Homo sapiens: one gene and its partner. The protein of the gene in region 2 interacts with the protein of the main gene of each other region in a biochemical or structural test. Each region holds a gene or a part of one and is shown on either strand. Other genes may lie near its edges.

The links. The genes of interacting proteins can lie anywhere in the genome.
Region 1: the proteins of CCDC91 (region 2) and AP1G1 form a complex in vitro, tested with the Homo sapiens proteins (one study listed by BioGRID).

What each region holds. Positions count from the first base shown.
Region 1 is NC_000016.10:71,798,316-71,806,074, reverse strand, and holds part of AP1G1 (AP-1 complex subunit gamma-1), read left to right. Parts: intron 1-7,759. UniProt on the Homo sapiens protein: Subunit of clathrin-associated adaptor protein complex 1 that plays a role in protein sorting in the late-Golgi/trans-Golgi network (TGN) and/or endosomes.
Region 2 is NC_000012.12:28,305,153-28,312,911, reverse strand, and holds part of CCDC91 (coiled-coil domain-containing protein 91), read right to left. Parts: intron 7,264-7,759; coding exon 7,106-7,263; intron 6,171-7,105; coding exon 5,967-6,170; intron 5,268-5,966; coding exon 5,163-5,267; intron 1-5,162. UniProt on the Homo sapiens protein: Involved in the regulation of membrane traffic through the trans-Golgi network (TGN). Functions in close cooperation with the GGAs in the sorting of hydrolases to lysosomes.

The DNA of each region.
Region 1 (7,759 bases), on a different chromosome or scaffold from region 2:
CCAACTTCTTTATGATTTATAAAAACTCTTTTTTTTTTTTTTTATTATTTTTATTGTTTGAGACAGGGTCTCACTCTGTTGCCCAGGCTGGAGTGCAGTGGTCTCAGCTCACTGCAGCCTGGACCTCCTGGACTCAAGCGATCCTCCTGCCTCAGCCCTCCACGTAGCTGGGACTACAGGCGTGTGCTACCACGCAGGGCTAATTTTTGTATTTTTTGTATAGATAGTGTTTTGTCATGTTGCCCAGGCTGGGCTCAAGCAATCCTCTTGCCTCGGCCTCGCAAAGTGCTGAGATTACAGGTGTGAGCCACCTCACCTGGCCAAAACTTTTAATTTATACAAATTTAAAAAGTTGAATGAGTATTTTCCAAGATATTATTTTTAATTAAAAAAATTGAATTGGCAATCTACATACCAAAACAGATTTTCCACAATGCTTAATCCCCTTATTTGCATTTGATGAGGATTTTAAAATTTTGTGTATATAGCAGGACTTAATTGCTATCAAAACTTTAAAACTCTTACTTAGAGCTTCAGAACATTTAAAAATACTGTTTTAGGTGTTTGTAATTTAGTCTGTCCTTGCTTTATGAATTGTTTTCAGTTCTTTTTTGTTTGTTTTTTGAGACAAAGTCTTACTCTGTCTCCCAGGCTGGAGTGCAGTGGCTCGATCTCGGCTCACTGTGCAACCTCCACCTCCTGGATTCCAGTGATTTCTGCTGCCTCAGCCTCCCGAGTAGCTGGGATTACAAGCGTGCGCCACCATGCCCAGCTAATTTTTGTATTTTTAGTAGAGGCGGGGTTTCACCATGTTGGCTAGGCTGGTCTCGAACTCCTGAGCTCAAGTGATCCACCCACCTTGGCCTCCCAAAGTGCTGGGATTACAGGCAGGAGGAGCCACTGCGTTCAGTCTGTTTTCGGTTCTTGATTTTGGCTTTCTTTATTCTCTGTTGCTTTTACTCAGTTTCTAATGCAGAATAATGTTGAAAGTAGCAAACAATTTTTTTTCAACTCCTCTCAGCTTATAAGTAACAAGCAATTTTATTTTTATTGATTGATTGATTGAGACAGGTTCTCACTCTTTCACCCAGGCTGGAGTGCAGTGGTGCAATCTCAGCTCACTGCAGCCTCGACCTCCTCCCAGGTTCAAGTGATCCTCCCACTTCAGCCTCCTAAGTAGCTGGGACTGTAGGCATGTGCCGCCTGATTTATTATTTTTTTGTGGAGACGGGGATTCGCCATGTTGCCCAGGCTGGTTTCAAATTCCTGGGCTCAAGAGGTCCTCCCACCTCTGTCTCCCAAAGTGCTGGTATTAAAGGTGTGTGCCACCATGCCTTGCCCACAAGCAATTTTAAACTTAAGAGAGCAGGCTGGTGCAGTGGTTCATGCCTGTAATCCCAGCACTTTGGGAGGCCGAGGCAGGCGGATCACTTGAGGTCAGGAGTTTGATACTAGCCTGGTCAACATGATGAAATCCCGTCTGTACTAAAAATACAAAAGTTAGCCGGGCATGGTGATGTGCACCTGCATTCCCAGCTACTTAGGAGGCTCAGGTGGGAGGATTGCTTGAACAGGGAGGTGGAGGTTGCAGTGAGCTGAGATCACGCCACTGCACTCCAGCCTGGGTGACAGATGGAGGCTCTGTCTCAAAAAAAAAAAAAAAAAATTAAGAGAGCATATAGAAATCTTTTGTATTTCTTGGCTTACAGGTTTTGAAATGATCTTTGTTGGCTGGGCGAGGTGGCTCATGCCTGTAATCCCAGCACTTTGGGAGGCCGAGGCGGGTGGATCACGAGGTCAGGAGATCGAGACCATCCTGGCCAACATGGTTAAACCCCATCTCTACAAAAAAATAGAAAAATTAGCTGGGCATGATGGTGCGCGCCTGTAGTCCCAGCTACTCGGGAGACTGAGGCAGGAGAATCACTTGAACCTGGGAGGTGGAGGTTGTGGTGAGCTGAGATCACGCCACTGCACTCCAGCCTGGGGACAGAGCGAGACTCTTGTCTCCAAAAAAAAAATAAATAAATAAAATATGTTTATCAAAATGTAGTAGCATTTTTACAGTTGCCTTTTTGTATAGAAAATTTTATTTCAATGAGGTCAAGAAATAGAAAAGGGAAAAGAGGTGTCTTTTTTTTTTTTTTTTTTGAGACGGAGTCCTCCTCTGTTGCCCAGGCTGGAGTGCATCGGAGCCATCTCTGCTTACTGCAACCTCCGCCCCCTGGTTCAAGCAATTCTTCTGCCTCAGCCTCCCGAGTAGCTGGGACTACAGGTGTGCGCCACCATGCCTAGCTAATTTTTGTATTTTTAGTAGAGACAGGGCTTCACCCTGTTGACCAGGCTGATCTTGAATTCCTGGGCTCAAGTGATCCACCAGCCTTGGCCTCCCAAAGTGCTGGGATTACAGGCATGAATGAGGTGTCATTTTTACTTTGAAGATACGTGTTAAGTTTTTTTCTTCACTGACCTAGTAACACAATACACTTAATATGGCATGAGTTTTGGTTGCTGGAAAAACTGGTTAAAGTTTGAAGGGTCCAGAAGTGGGAGAAAAAAAACTCACTTGCCAAATGTGTTGAGTCAGCATTAACTAACACTTTAGCATAAAAGGGCAAGGTTTAGGATGAGATGATTGAAATGAGAAATGCTTTTTTTCACTAGGTACTTGGAAATTTTACTTTAAAAAAAAGCCTACTCAGACCATTGGAGAGATTTAATTAGTAAATCATAAATGTTGGCAACAAATTAAGTAGGTTTAGAAGGAAGAAGTCATTTTTTTAAAAGATGAGGAAAAAATACATGTGACTTTTGTAATTTATAAATAAAAACATCTTATTATTTATTTATTTATTCTTTTTGAGACAGAGTCTCACTCTGTCACCCAGGCTGGAGTGCAGTGGTGCCATCTCAGCTTACTACAGCCTCTACCTCCTGGGTTCCCGCGATTCTTGTGCTCAGCCTCCCGAGTAGCTGGGACTGCAGGCGTGCACCACTGTACCTGGCTACTTTTTGTATTTTTAGTGGAGACGGGGTTTTGTCACGTTGGCCAGGCTGGTCTCGAAATCCTGACCTCAGGTGATTCACCTGCTTCAGCCTCCCAAAGTGCTGGGATTATAGGTGTGAGCCACCGAGCCTGGCTAAAATATTTTAAATCTTTCAAAGATATGTAAAGATGTTACGTGTTTTCTCAACCTAAAAATAAACTTCGCTGGCCAGACCTGGTGGCTCATGTCTGTAATCCCAGTACTTTGGGAAGCCAAGTCAGAAGGATCACTTGAGGACAGGAGTTTGAAACCAGCCTGGGAAACACAGTGGGACTCTGGCTGTACGAATTTTTTTTTTGAGACAGAGTCTTGCTCTGTCACCCAGGCTGGAGTGCAGTGGTGCGATCTCGGCTCACCTCAACCTCCGCCTCCTGGGTTCAAGCGATTCTTCTGCCTCAGCCTCCCAAGTAGCTAGAATTACAGGCGCCCGCCACCATGCCCAGTTAATTTTTGTACTTTTAGTAGAGATGGGGTTTCACCATGTTGGACAGGCTGGTCTTGACCTCCTGACCTCAGGTGATCCACCCACCTCGGCCTCCCAAAGTGCCGGGATTACAGGCATGAGCTACCGCGCCTGGCCCAAAATTTTTTAAAGTAGCTGGGTTGTGGTGTCTTTGCCAGTAGCCTTAGCTGCCTGGGAGCCTGAGGCAGGAAGATCACTTGAACCCAGGAGTTCAAGGCTGCAGTGAGCTAAGACTGTGCCACTGCACTCCAGCCTGGGTGACAGAGATAGACTGTCTCAAAAAAAAGAGGTAAGTAAAAAACGCTTCTTTTGCTTCCTTTTAAGACTGAACACTTTTTCAGTTGTTTAGTTTTGAGGTTTAGTTAAATAGGTTCACTAACTTGAGCTGTAAAAACACTAATGGAACTCCTTTTACTTTGAGTTGTACAACTGTATAATCATTTATATAAGTTAGCTCTTTCAACCAAATACACATTGAGTATCTCTTATCTGAAATGCTTGAGACCAGAAATGTTTCATATTTTGGATTTTTTCAGATTTTGGAATATTTGCGTTACACCACTTGTACATCCCTAATCCTAAAATCCAAAATCTGAAACACTTGCAGAGCATTTTTTTCTTTTCTTTTTTTTTTTTTTTTTTGGTTACGGAGTCTCGCCCTGTCGCCCAGGCTGGAGTGCAGTGGCGCAATCTCGGCTCACTGCAAGCTCCGCCTCCCGGGTTCATGCCATTCTCCTGCCTCAGTCTCCAGAGTAGCTGGGACTGCAGGCGCCCGCCACCACGCCTGGCTAATTTTTTGTATTTTCAGTAGAGACGGGCTTTCACCATGTTAGCCAGGATGGTCGTGATCTCCTGACCTTGTGATCTGCCCGCCTCAGCCTCCCCTGCTGGGATAACAGGCGTGACCCACCGCGCCCGGCCTTGAAGAGCATTTCTTCAAGCATCATGTCAACAATCAAAAAATGTCAGGTTTTGGAGAATTTCAGATTTTGGATTAGGGATGTTTACCCTATAGTGTTTACCCTGTAGTGTTACATCATCTGTTCTATGACAGTCTTAATTTTAACCCCAAATTTTAACAGATTATGAATGAATTTACGCTTCAATATTTCTCTCAATGCTTAGTTAAGTACTGTACATACTCACGTAAGTGTACATAGGAATTTTTTGTTTTTACTAAAGAGAGATCATATTATTTATATTACTCTATGACACGCTTTTTTTTTTTTTTAACATGTCATGGTCAGTAAATATAATTCTTTTTTTTTGTTTGTTTGTTTTTTTTGAGATGGAGTCTTACCCTGTCACCCAGGTGGTGGGAATCTCCGCCTCCTGGGTTCAGTGATTCTCCTGCCTCAGACTTCAGAGTAGCTGGGATTATAGGCACCTGCCACCACACCCAGATAATTTTTGTATTTTTAGTAGAGATGAGGTTTCGCCATGTTGGCCTGGCTGGTATCAAACTCCTGACCTTAAGTGATCTGCCTGCCTTGGCCTCCCAAAGTGCTGGGATTACAGGCATGAGCCACCGCGCCCAGCCAATATAATTCATTTTTGTTTTGTTTTTTTGAGACGGAGTTTTGCTTTTGCTGCCCAGGCTGGAGTGCAATGGCGTGATCTCAGCTCACCGCAACCTCCGCCTCCCAGGTTCAAGTGATTCTCCTGCCTCAGCCTCCCGAGTAGTTGGGATTACAGACATGTGCCACCATGCCCCGCTAAGTTTGTATTTTTAGTAGAGATGGGGTTTCTTTCTTTTTTTTTTTTGAGACGGAGTCTCGCTGTGTTGCCCAGGCTGGAGTGCAGTGGCGCGATCCCAGCTCACTGCAAGTTCTGCCTCCCAGGTTCACGCCATTCTCCTGCGTCAGCCTCCCGAGTAGCTGGGACTACAGGCACCCACCACCACGCCTGGCTAATGTTCTGTATTTTTAGTAGAGATGGGGTTTCACCATGTTAGCCAGGATGGTCTCCATCTCCTGACCTCGTGATCTGCCCACCTTGGCCTCCCAAAGTGCTAGGATTAAAGGCGTGAGCCCCCGCACCCGACCCGAGACGGGGGGGTTTCTCCATGTTGGTCAGGCTGGTTTTGAACTCCCGACCTCACATGATCCTCCCACCTTGGCCTCCCAAAGTGCTAGGATTACAGGTGTGAGCCACCGTGCCTGGCCAATATAATTCTTTTTTTTTTTTTTTTTGAGATGGGGAGTCTTGCTCTATCACCCAGGCTAGAGTGCAGTGGTGCGATCTCGGCTCACTGCAAGCTCCACCTCCTGGGTTCACGCCATTCTCCTGCCTCAGCCTCCCGAGTAGCTGGGACTACAGGCGCCCACCACCACACCCGGCTAATTTTTTTGTATTTTTTTTTTTAGTAGAGACAGAGTTTCACCATGTTAACCAGGATGGTCTTGATCTCCTGACCTCGTGATCCACCTGCCTCGGCCTCCCAAAGTGCTGGGATTACAGGCGTGAGCCACCGTGCCCGGCAATATAATTCTTTATTATTATTTTTTTAAAAGATGACATTTTGCTATGTTGCTCAGGCTGATCTCGAACTCCTGGGCTTGAGCAATCTGCCTGCATCGGCCTCCCAAAGTGCTGGGGTTACAGGCGTGAGCCACCGCACCCAGCCAATATAATTTTTTATTATTATTATTATTATTATTATTTTTAAGATGGAACCTCGCTCTGTCACGAAGGCTGGAGTGCAGTGGCGCAGTCTCGGCTCACTGCATGCTCTGCTTCCTGGGTTCACGCCATTCTCCTGCATCAGCCTCCCGAGTAGCTGGGACTGCAGGCACCTGTCACCACACCCCGCTAATTTTCTGTATTTTTAGTAGAATTGGGTTTCACCATGTTAGCCAGGATGGTCTTGATCTCCTGACTTCATGATCCGCCTACCTTGGCCTCCCAAAGTGCTGGGATTACAGGTGTGAGCCACCGCTCCCAGCCTATTAGTTTTTTAATAAGAGATGAGATATAGCTGTATTGCTCAGGCTGGTCTCAAACTCCTGGACTTGAGCAGTCTGCCTCCTGTGGCCTCCCAAAGTGCTGAGATTACAGGTGTGAGCCACTGCACTCAGCCCACAGTAAATATAATTCTATCTTGTTCCTTTAAACAGTCCTATTGTGTCTTATAGCGTGGATGTACCATAATTTATTATTTTCCTGTGGACATTTAGATCATTTCTAGATTTTTGCCACTTAACAAAGTGCTACAATAAATATCCTTGTACATGCCGCCTTATATGCTGATGCTTTTATTTCTGTAGTCTCCAAAGGGGGAATTCTGGGTTAACAGAGAAATATATTTTAAATATTATTATTGCTAGATTACTCTCTAAATAGGTTATCATAATTTTCATCCCAAATAGCAGTAACTTCTCCATATCATGAAACCACTGGGTATAAATACATAGTTTAATTTTTACTAGTCTGCTAGATGATAAATGGGTCATGCAGTTTGTCTTAATTTTAACTTCCCTGTTACTGGGGCTAGCCTTATTTGATACGTATAATAGCCATTGGATTTCCTTTACCGAGAATTGTCTGCTCATGTCCTTGCTTCATTTTTCTTTCTCTTTTTTTTTCCTCCTGTAGGAGCGCTTATGGAATGTTAATTCTTTGTTATATGGCACGTGTATTTTTCTTGTCTTTCATTTATCCTTTTTTTTTTTCCTGGGAGACAGAGTCTCACCCTTGTCGCCCAGGCTAGAGTGCAGTGGTGTGATCTCGGCTCACTGCAGCCTCTGCCTCCTGGGTTCAAGCAATTCTCCTGCCTCAGCTTCCTGGGTAGCTGGGATTACAGGTGCCCGCCACCATGCCCGGCTAATTTTTGTACTTTTAGTAGAGACAGAGATTCGCCATGTTGGCCAGGCTGGTCTCAAACTCCTGACCTCAGGTGATCTGCCTGCCTCTGCCTTCCAAAGTGCTGGGATTACAGGCGTGAGCCACCGCACCACGCCCGGCCTCATTTATCTTTTAATCTTATTTATGTCACAGACATTTTCAGGTAATTATATATATCCCTCTTTTCCTCTTTGGTTTCTGAAACTGTCTTAGAATCCATTCCAGCTGGGTGCAGTGGCTCATGCCTGTAATCCCAGCACTTTGGGAGGCCGAGGCTGGCGGATCACGAGGTCAGGAGACTGAGATCATCCTAGCTAACAAGGTGAAACCTTGTCTCTACTAAAAATACAAAAAAATTAGCTGAGCGTGGTGGCACGCGCCTATAGTCCTGGCTACTCGGTAGGGT
Region 2 (7,759 bases):
TTCCACTTGGCTGAGGAGGCCTGACAATCATGACGGAAAGTGAAAGGCACGTCTCACATGGCAGCAGACAAGAGAAGAGAACTTGCACAGGGAAACTTCCCTTTATAAAACCATCAGATCTCGTGAGACATTTACTATCACAAGAATAGCACAAGAAAGACACATCCCCATGATTCAATTATCTGCCACCAGGTCCCTCCCACAACATGTGGGAATTATGAAAACTACAATTCAAGATAAGATTTGAGTGGGGACACAGCCAAACCATATCACTATTTAAAAACTTACTTTGCTAATATTTCATCCTATACATATTTAACATACAGTAGCCTCCTTTGACACTCACAAATTTAATCACATCTCTTATTCCTAAGAAATTATTAGGTAGAAACGACTTTGTGTTAGTTTGAAAGAAGTCCATAACCCTCAGAAAGAACTGGATTGCAGAAAGGTCAAATACGGAAGCCTAAGATTTCTAAATTCTTCCTGAATCAGGTATTTACAGTACAATGTAAATATTTTTGTTGAAAATACACTTTCAGAATATCTAACACATACACATAAATATGCACAAACTTAGTAAATATAAAGCAGATATAGAGATTTATGTATTATCTCCCATTTCGAATTATCCATATATTTTTATGCATCCTTCCTCTATCTAGAATGACTCCATGGGAGCTCATTAACCTGTTTCCCCACCTCCAAAAAAAACCGACTCAAAGTTACCTGTTTCAAATTAATGTATTTTAACTTTGATATCAATTTCCTGATGTAGCTACAACAAAGAATAACTAAAATTTAAAAGGTTGCTTTCTATCCCACTTCCAGATTAAAATTAAAAAGACACACTTCTCCCTATTTCTATCAATAAATAGAGCTAAAAAGTTTGGACATTTTATTAAAACAAATTTAAGAGGATTCTGGAATGCAGAGGGAAGGCAGACTAACTAGGGACCTGGGAATCCAAGGAATGACAAAGCAGTGAGTTCTGTGAGTTTTCTTTTAGCCTCATATATCCCAAACTGGGGAGTGGAATAGCCAGCAACCAGGAAACACCAACAGGCACAAAAGCCCCAATAAAAGTCAATCCTCTGTAACAAAAGGGCCATCCATGAAAGGCACAATCTAGCAAGACAGAAAACTTTTAGACAATAAACATCCTACACCAACCAAATACCATGGAAAAAAAATTTAAAAAAAAACACGCATGGCCCTAACTTTGAAACTTTTAATCAACAGTAAACAATGACTCAAACAAAATACTTTCTTCTAAATAGTCATAGTGTAGGCCTATTGAACAATGTCCCTATAGGACACTGAAAAGACACACTGCTCACCTTTTTCCTTATTTCCAAGTTTCGCCTTTATTTTTAAACCACCTCTGTCACAAAAGGCCGAGTACTGAGCCTAGATTTCCACTCTCGCCCCAGCAACAATGCAGTGCCCATAGATGACCTCGATGTGGTATCAGAGAAAACCAAGTGGTTGTGAAGACAGTTTTAGGACTTCTATCCCCATCCAAAAGGAAAAAGACTCTCTCTCCCTCCTTTCCTGTGTCAGAGGAAGCTGAGTGGGAAGCCAGAACTTTTATAACTATCCAGAGGTAAGAAGATCTCACCTAATCTCACAGTAAGGCACCCGTGGAACAGTAATAAGGTGCCTCTCCTGCTCCCAGCCAGGGATGTATCTGCTAAGGCCTGTGGGAGCCCTGAAATCCCACCTTATCTCAGGAGTAAGGCAGTATCCCTCCTACCCAGGGTGTCAAAGGGGGCTGAGTGGAAAACTTGTCATTTTACTTGCACCTGACATTAACAAAATGGTTAATCTTTTCCCAAACTATACAGTATCAGATGAGGCCTGCTAAAATACAAGATTTAAATAAGATCCAAGGTATCATACAAAATACCCAAAATATGCAGGATAAAATTAAAATGCACTCATCATACTAAGAATCAGAAAAATCTCAACTTGGGTAAGAAAATACTATCAATAGTAACACTGAGATGACATTTTTCTAACAAGGATTTTAAAGCAACCATAATAAAAATGCTTCGGCAGGGAATTATGAAACATGCTTGAAACAAACAGAATAGAAAGTTTAAGCACAGAATGGAAGATATGAAGGAGAACCAAATGGAAATTTTAGAACTGAAATATACAATAACCAAATAAAAAACAAAGAATTGGCACATCAAATGAATGGAAGGGACTGAGGATAGAAATGCTTTCCTCAGAGATGGTATGGTGACATACAAACTGAACAGTATGCCTACTTTAACTTCGATTTGGCTATGAGACCTCCTGGTACATTTTTCTATAATTTATTTAGCCAAGGTGTTTAACACTCCGTAAGTTACTCTTTTATTCCCATGCTATAAAAAGGAGAGAGAAGCCTATAGGTCCTAAAATGAAGTCATCTGAAAAAAGTTTTCTTTGAAAGTACTGATTCCTACAAAAGGAACTAGCTTTGAAGACTCAAGTCATCACTCCTAGATTATCACTATTAATAGTAAACGCAGTGAGACAACAATGATAATGCCAGATAGCATTTATATTGGTCATTAATGTAAAAACAACCCAAAGTGATATACGTTAAGTCTCACGTAGTCTCTCTGATATGTTACTGTTCCCATTTATAGATGGAAAAACTGAACTCTCAAAGATGTATGTCTCACTAAAGGGTCCAGAATAAGTCATTCAGTGGAGACAAAGAAACACAAAGTTATCTCATTATTCAGTACTATGCCTTTTAATCAGCACCATAGTTCCAAGGATGAGGTCAGTAAGTGTGGCTATACACAATGTAATTAGTCCTTGGGGAGCAGGGTGCATGATATTAGTTCATCTATTCAATTCATCCAACAGTATTCATTGAACATGCACTATATGCCAAGTACTACTGGGAAGGAAAACTCCTTAATCTCAAGGAATTTACACTGTAGTGGAGAAAAGACAGAAAATAAACAAATCAAAATAAAATAACAGGTAGGAATAAGCGGTATGGAAAAGAAAAAAATAAAAAGGGCTAGGGGATGCTGAGCAAGTACAAAGGGCCTTATTTTATACAGCACGATTAAGAAAAGCCTCCACAAGAGTAGCATTTGAGCAAATATCAGAAGGAAGCTAGAGTTCAGCGAGAGCTGTTAAAAGTATAATTTTCAAAAAGTTAATCTGACTCATGTAAATACCAATTGAAGATATACCAAAGATTTATTCTGTTCATTTACTAATGAATTAATCATTTATCTTAAGACTGAATGAATATTAAGACTGGTTCAAGAAGCATTTGAAGAACAGGATTTATATAGGAAATTTAACAATGGAGTGTTAACTAGGAGCAATAGGTTAGAGACGAAACTGGTTAATATCCTATAAGACCGAATGAATAAGATGCTAAGACTGGTTTAAGCAGCATGTGAAGAACAGGATTTAGATAGGAAATTTAACAACATGGAGTGTTGGACTAAAAGCACTAGGTTAGAGATAAAACTTGTTAATATCCTACAGGGCAATTAATTATATTCTTAGAAGTTATCTTTTCTAACAGACAGAATTATTCGCATCTCTTCAGGGGAAAAAATCTATAAATTAACATGTAACTTCACTACATCTGAGACTTTTATTCAAGAATAAACAGTGAGTCAAATAAAGTACTTTCTCCTAAGTACTCCTGAGGTGGGCACATTAAACAATGTCATCACAGGCACTGAAAAGACACACTGCCTGCGTTTTTCTTATTTCCAAGTTTTGTATTTTTAAGAAACTTATCTACAGGAGGAACAGCATTCCAGGCAGAGATATGTGAGTGAATCATGGACCATACCCCTCCAACAGGCAAAGAATGTCCTTCCCCACGCATACTCACACATTCACCTATACCTTATTATAAAGCTTGGTGTAAATAAATACCTGAGGGTAAACTGGAGAAGCTTGAAAATGTATATTGGAATGAAAATAGGAATTGAGTCTGGGATCTGATTTGATTTACATTTTTAAAACACTACTCTTACCTGCTGAATTAAAAACTCATGAAGGAAAAGAACAAGGATGGAAGCCAGAAGACCACTTAGGAGACTATTACAGTGATCCAGGCAAATAAACAAGTAAATATATAATTTGTCAAATGTAAAAGGTGCTAGGAATAAAAATAAAGCAGACTATGATAAGGTGGATGGAGAGGATGTCAGCATTGTCTGGAAAGGCTTATCTGATAAGGTAATACTTGAACAGAGACTTGAAGGCTATGAAGAAAACCATGCAGGTATCTGAGGGAATCTGAGCACTCTGGACATTAGGAAAAAGAAAAATGACTGAGGAAAAAGAGGCAAGGAAAAGAGAGGAAGAAGGGACATAAGGGAACACAGAGCCTTGAAAACCAGTTTAAGGACCTGGCTTTTAGTGTGGGAAAGATAAGAAGCCCACGAAGGTTTTAGAACAGAATAATGACATGACTAGCTTTAAGTTTCAATCAGATCACAGTGGCTGCAATGGGGGGAATGGTCTGCACGTGGGCAGTGACAAAAACAAAAGACTAGTTAGAATATACTTTAGTAATCCAAGGGAGAAATAATGATAATATACAATATGTTAATAGCGCTGACCATGATGATAAATGGTTGAAACCTGGATATTCTGAAGGTACAGCCAACAAATCCTGCTAAAGAAACAGACATTGAGTAAGTACAAAAAGGAATGAGTTAGTTTTAGTCTTAGCAATTAGAAAGATGGAGTTGCCATTTACTGTGTTAGGTTAGACTGTAGAAGAAATAAATAAGAAAATTTAGGAAGGAGAAAAGGAGACAATTTATTTAAAAAAGTTAAGTGTCTCAGTTCTGGATTACAGGATTCTAAATGTAATTCAAATGTAATTATTATAACAAAAATTAGAATAAACAGTTCCCAAAATGTATCCATCAGAAACAGAATATTTCTTACCAAATTGTTTGGGCCTCAAACTACTAATCCTCAGGGCTGCTCACAGACTCATATTTTTCAAAATGGGTGTCTTCCCATTAATTTAGCCCATGTTGGTCAGTTTTATATATTTAAGCAAGTATCTGATTCTTCATTCATAAGATATTCATTATGCACTTTTTGAAATTATAGCACATGCTTCATCAAAAGGCTTACATTTTAAATCTTAAGTTCAATCGCCTTACCTGAAGTTCTTTGTATCTATCTTGAAAAGAAATGGCCTCTTGCTCTTTTTCTTTTAGAAAGCCTTTTTCTAAGACATTATGCTTTTCCATCAATGATTCCACATCCTAAAATAAAAATACAAATACAAGCTTTGTAATATTTAATGGCATAAAATATAATTAGTTTTTTCAATGAACATGTCAGAAAACATTTGTCAGAGAAAGAATCCATGGGAAGTACGGCTTAAAATCTAACAATATTATAAATTATATGCTTCACTCTAATTTCTAGGCCAATATCAAACATGGACACAACATTTACTCATTCCAACAAATGAATATGAGCATCTCAACTAATTTCATCAACATAATCTACCTCTACATACACTTTCTATAAATTTGCTATATATTCACAGGGAAGAAAGCATAAGTAAAGAATTTACTAAAATGGCTGTATACCTAAGTACTCTTGTCAAATATCCTGTGATGCCTAACTTCCCATAGGGAAAAGTTGATGTCGCAAAATTTCACCTCCTCATAAGAAACACAATACTACCTGCTTTCAAAGTAAATAAAAATAAACCAAAAAAGAAAGCAATAGTTAGAAAAAACCTAGTAAACGATGTTCATATCTTTAAAAGTACATATGTAAAATATATTTCTTATCAAAGGCTTTTCTAAGTGATAAGCTCATGACTGCTTTAAACCTACAACCAAGGGAGAAAAGTATCTTCTTCCTCTGATGAGTTTTTAATCAGAGTTTGAGATTATATCAAATTTCTAATATTTGCAATTCAAACATTTCTTAGGCAAATGTAAATATACCTGTTTAATTCTCTGTTTTTCTTCTTCAGATACTTTGAGTTTAATCTCCAGACTTGAAATTTTTTGCTGAAGCTGTATGTTAGATACATTGGCTCCAGGATCCTCAGAATCATCCACAAGGGCAATTGTTCCATTACTTTTTTCATCAGTTAAACCCAATGGAAAAAGTGAGATATCCAGATGAGTGTGTGTTGATTGCTGAATCTAAACCACATAAAAAAAAAAATACACAAGAGAGGAAAGTTTACACTATACCAATAATGAAAACATCCAAAGGGCACTAGAAACCACATTTGGAAATTAAGTTGTTGAAAAGGTTCCGAAATTATTTCACCCTTTAAGTAAATCAAGAGAAGACCTCAAACTTTTACAACAACCCGATCTTTGCTGTAAGAAACAAAATTTCCTCTTAATTTTGAAATCTAAAGTATTCATTATTTTGCTACCAATGCACTAAAAGACTTAACTTTTTCCTGTGCTTGAAAATGTATGAATAAGGATAGACATATCTGGTTGTTAACAGTTCTTAAATTTACACACAGACCTAGAATTTGTTTATATTTTAAACTGTAAATCAAACTCTGAAATTTATCAATGACCTCTATTGATCACCACTGTCTCGCAAAATTAACAGGTGACTCAAAATTGTGTACAGCACTTTAGAAATTGGGACTACCTTCAGCAGCTAGCATAAATTCTTGCTTTAAAAAATATTTGAATGAATAAACCTTATAACTGCTATATTTTTGGTTTTTACTCTAAAATTGAAATAGTTGCTTGAATACCTGAAAATGTGCGGTAAGATTCGCTGAAAAGAGAAATACTTATTCTTCTTTGTATTATTTTCCCTTTTCAAGTTCAAGATTTGAAATGCAAAGCCAAGTAAAGTTTAATAAATGAGATACTCAAATCATACTTTGGTAACTAAGGCTACTTAAATACTTTGCAATTGTGCCACGACACAAACATATTATATAGTTTTTTTGAATTCTAAGTATTAGCCTCAAAATTAGAATATCTATTGCAGAAATACTTCTTTTAGACAAATAGGCTAAAAAAGAAATTAAAAAAGCAACAATTAAATTAGCAGGCAATTTTTTAAATATGCAAACCTCCTTTAAAAATATGTTTGTCTTTACCTGTGCTTTTGGAATAGTTTGACTCACAATGCTATTTGCTGCATGTGTATTCTCTGGTGATGAAATAATGGCATCAGAAGAGAGGCAGCCAATGGAAGAAGAGTGGTCACGGTCCAGTACAATCTCAGGAGAAGATGGTGAAAGATGGACTCCAGATACTAAAGAAAAACAACAACAACAAAAAGGATAGGATTATTAAAGAGAAAACAGAGAGGGAACAGGTTGAAAGGAAGAAAGAGAGCTGAAATAGAGGAAAAGAAAAAAGTAAGGAAAGTAAAAGCAATGAGAGTGAAAAATCAGGATTCTATGACTATTCCTCAGGGCCCAATCTGTGAAAGCTAAAACTAGTGTTTTTAATTTAACATGACACTTCCATGTAAGATCCAGGCAAACAAAATAGTTTTATAAAGTCTTAGTGTTTACATACCAACACAGTGCCATAAGGAGTACATTTCCAACATAGAGAAAATACTCATATATATATATTATATATTCATACATTTCATTCAGAAAAATCCATTTAATTTTTTTAAAAAGCGCTAGAGTACCTACCAGTGCCAGTCACAGGCATTAGGGACTGAAGAGACAGCAGTGAGCAATACAGATGCACCCATGTACTCAATGGCTTTATGACTCGGTAGGCAAGTCAACCAA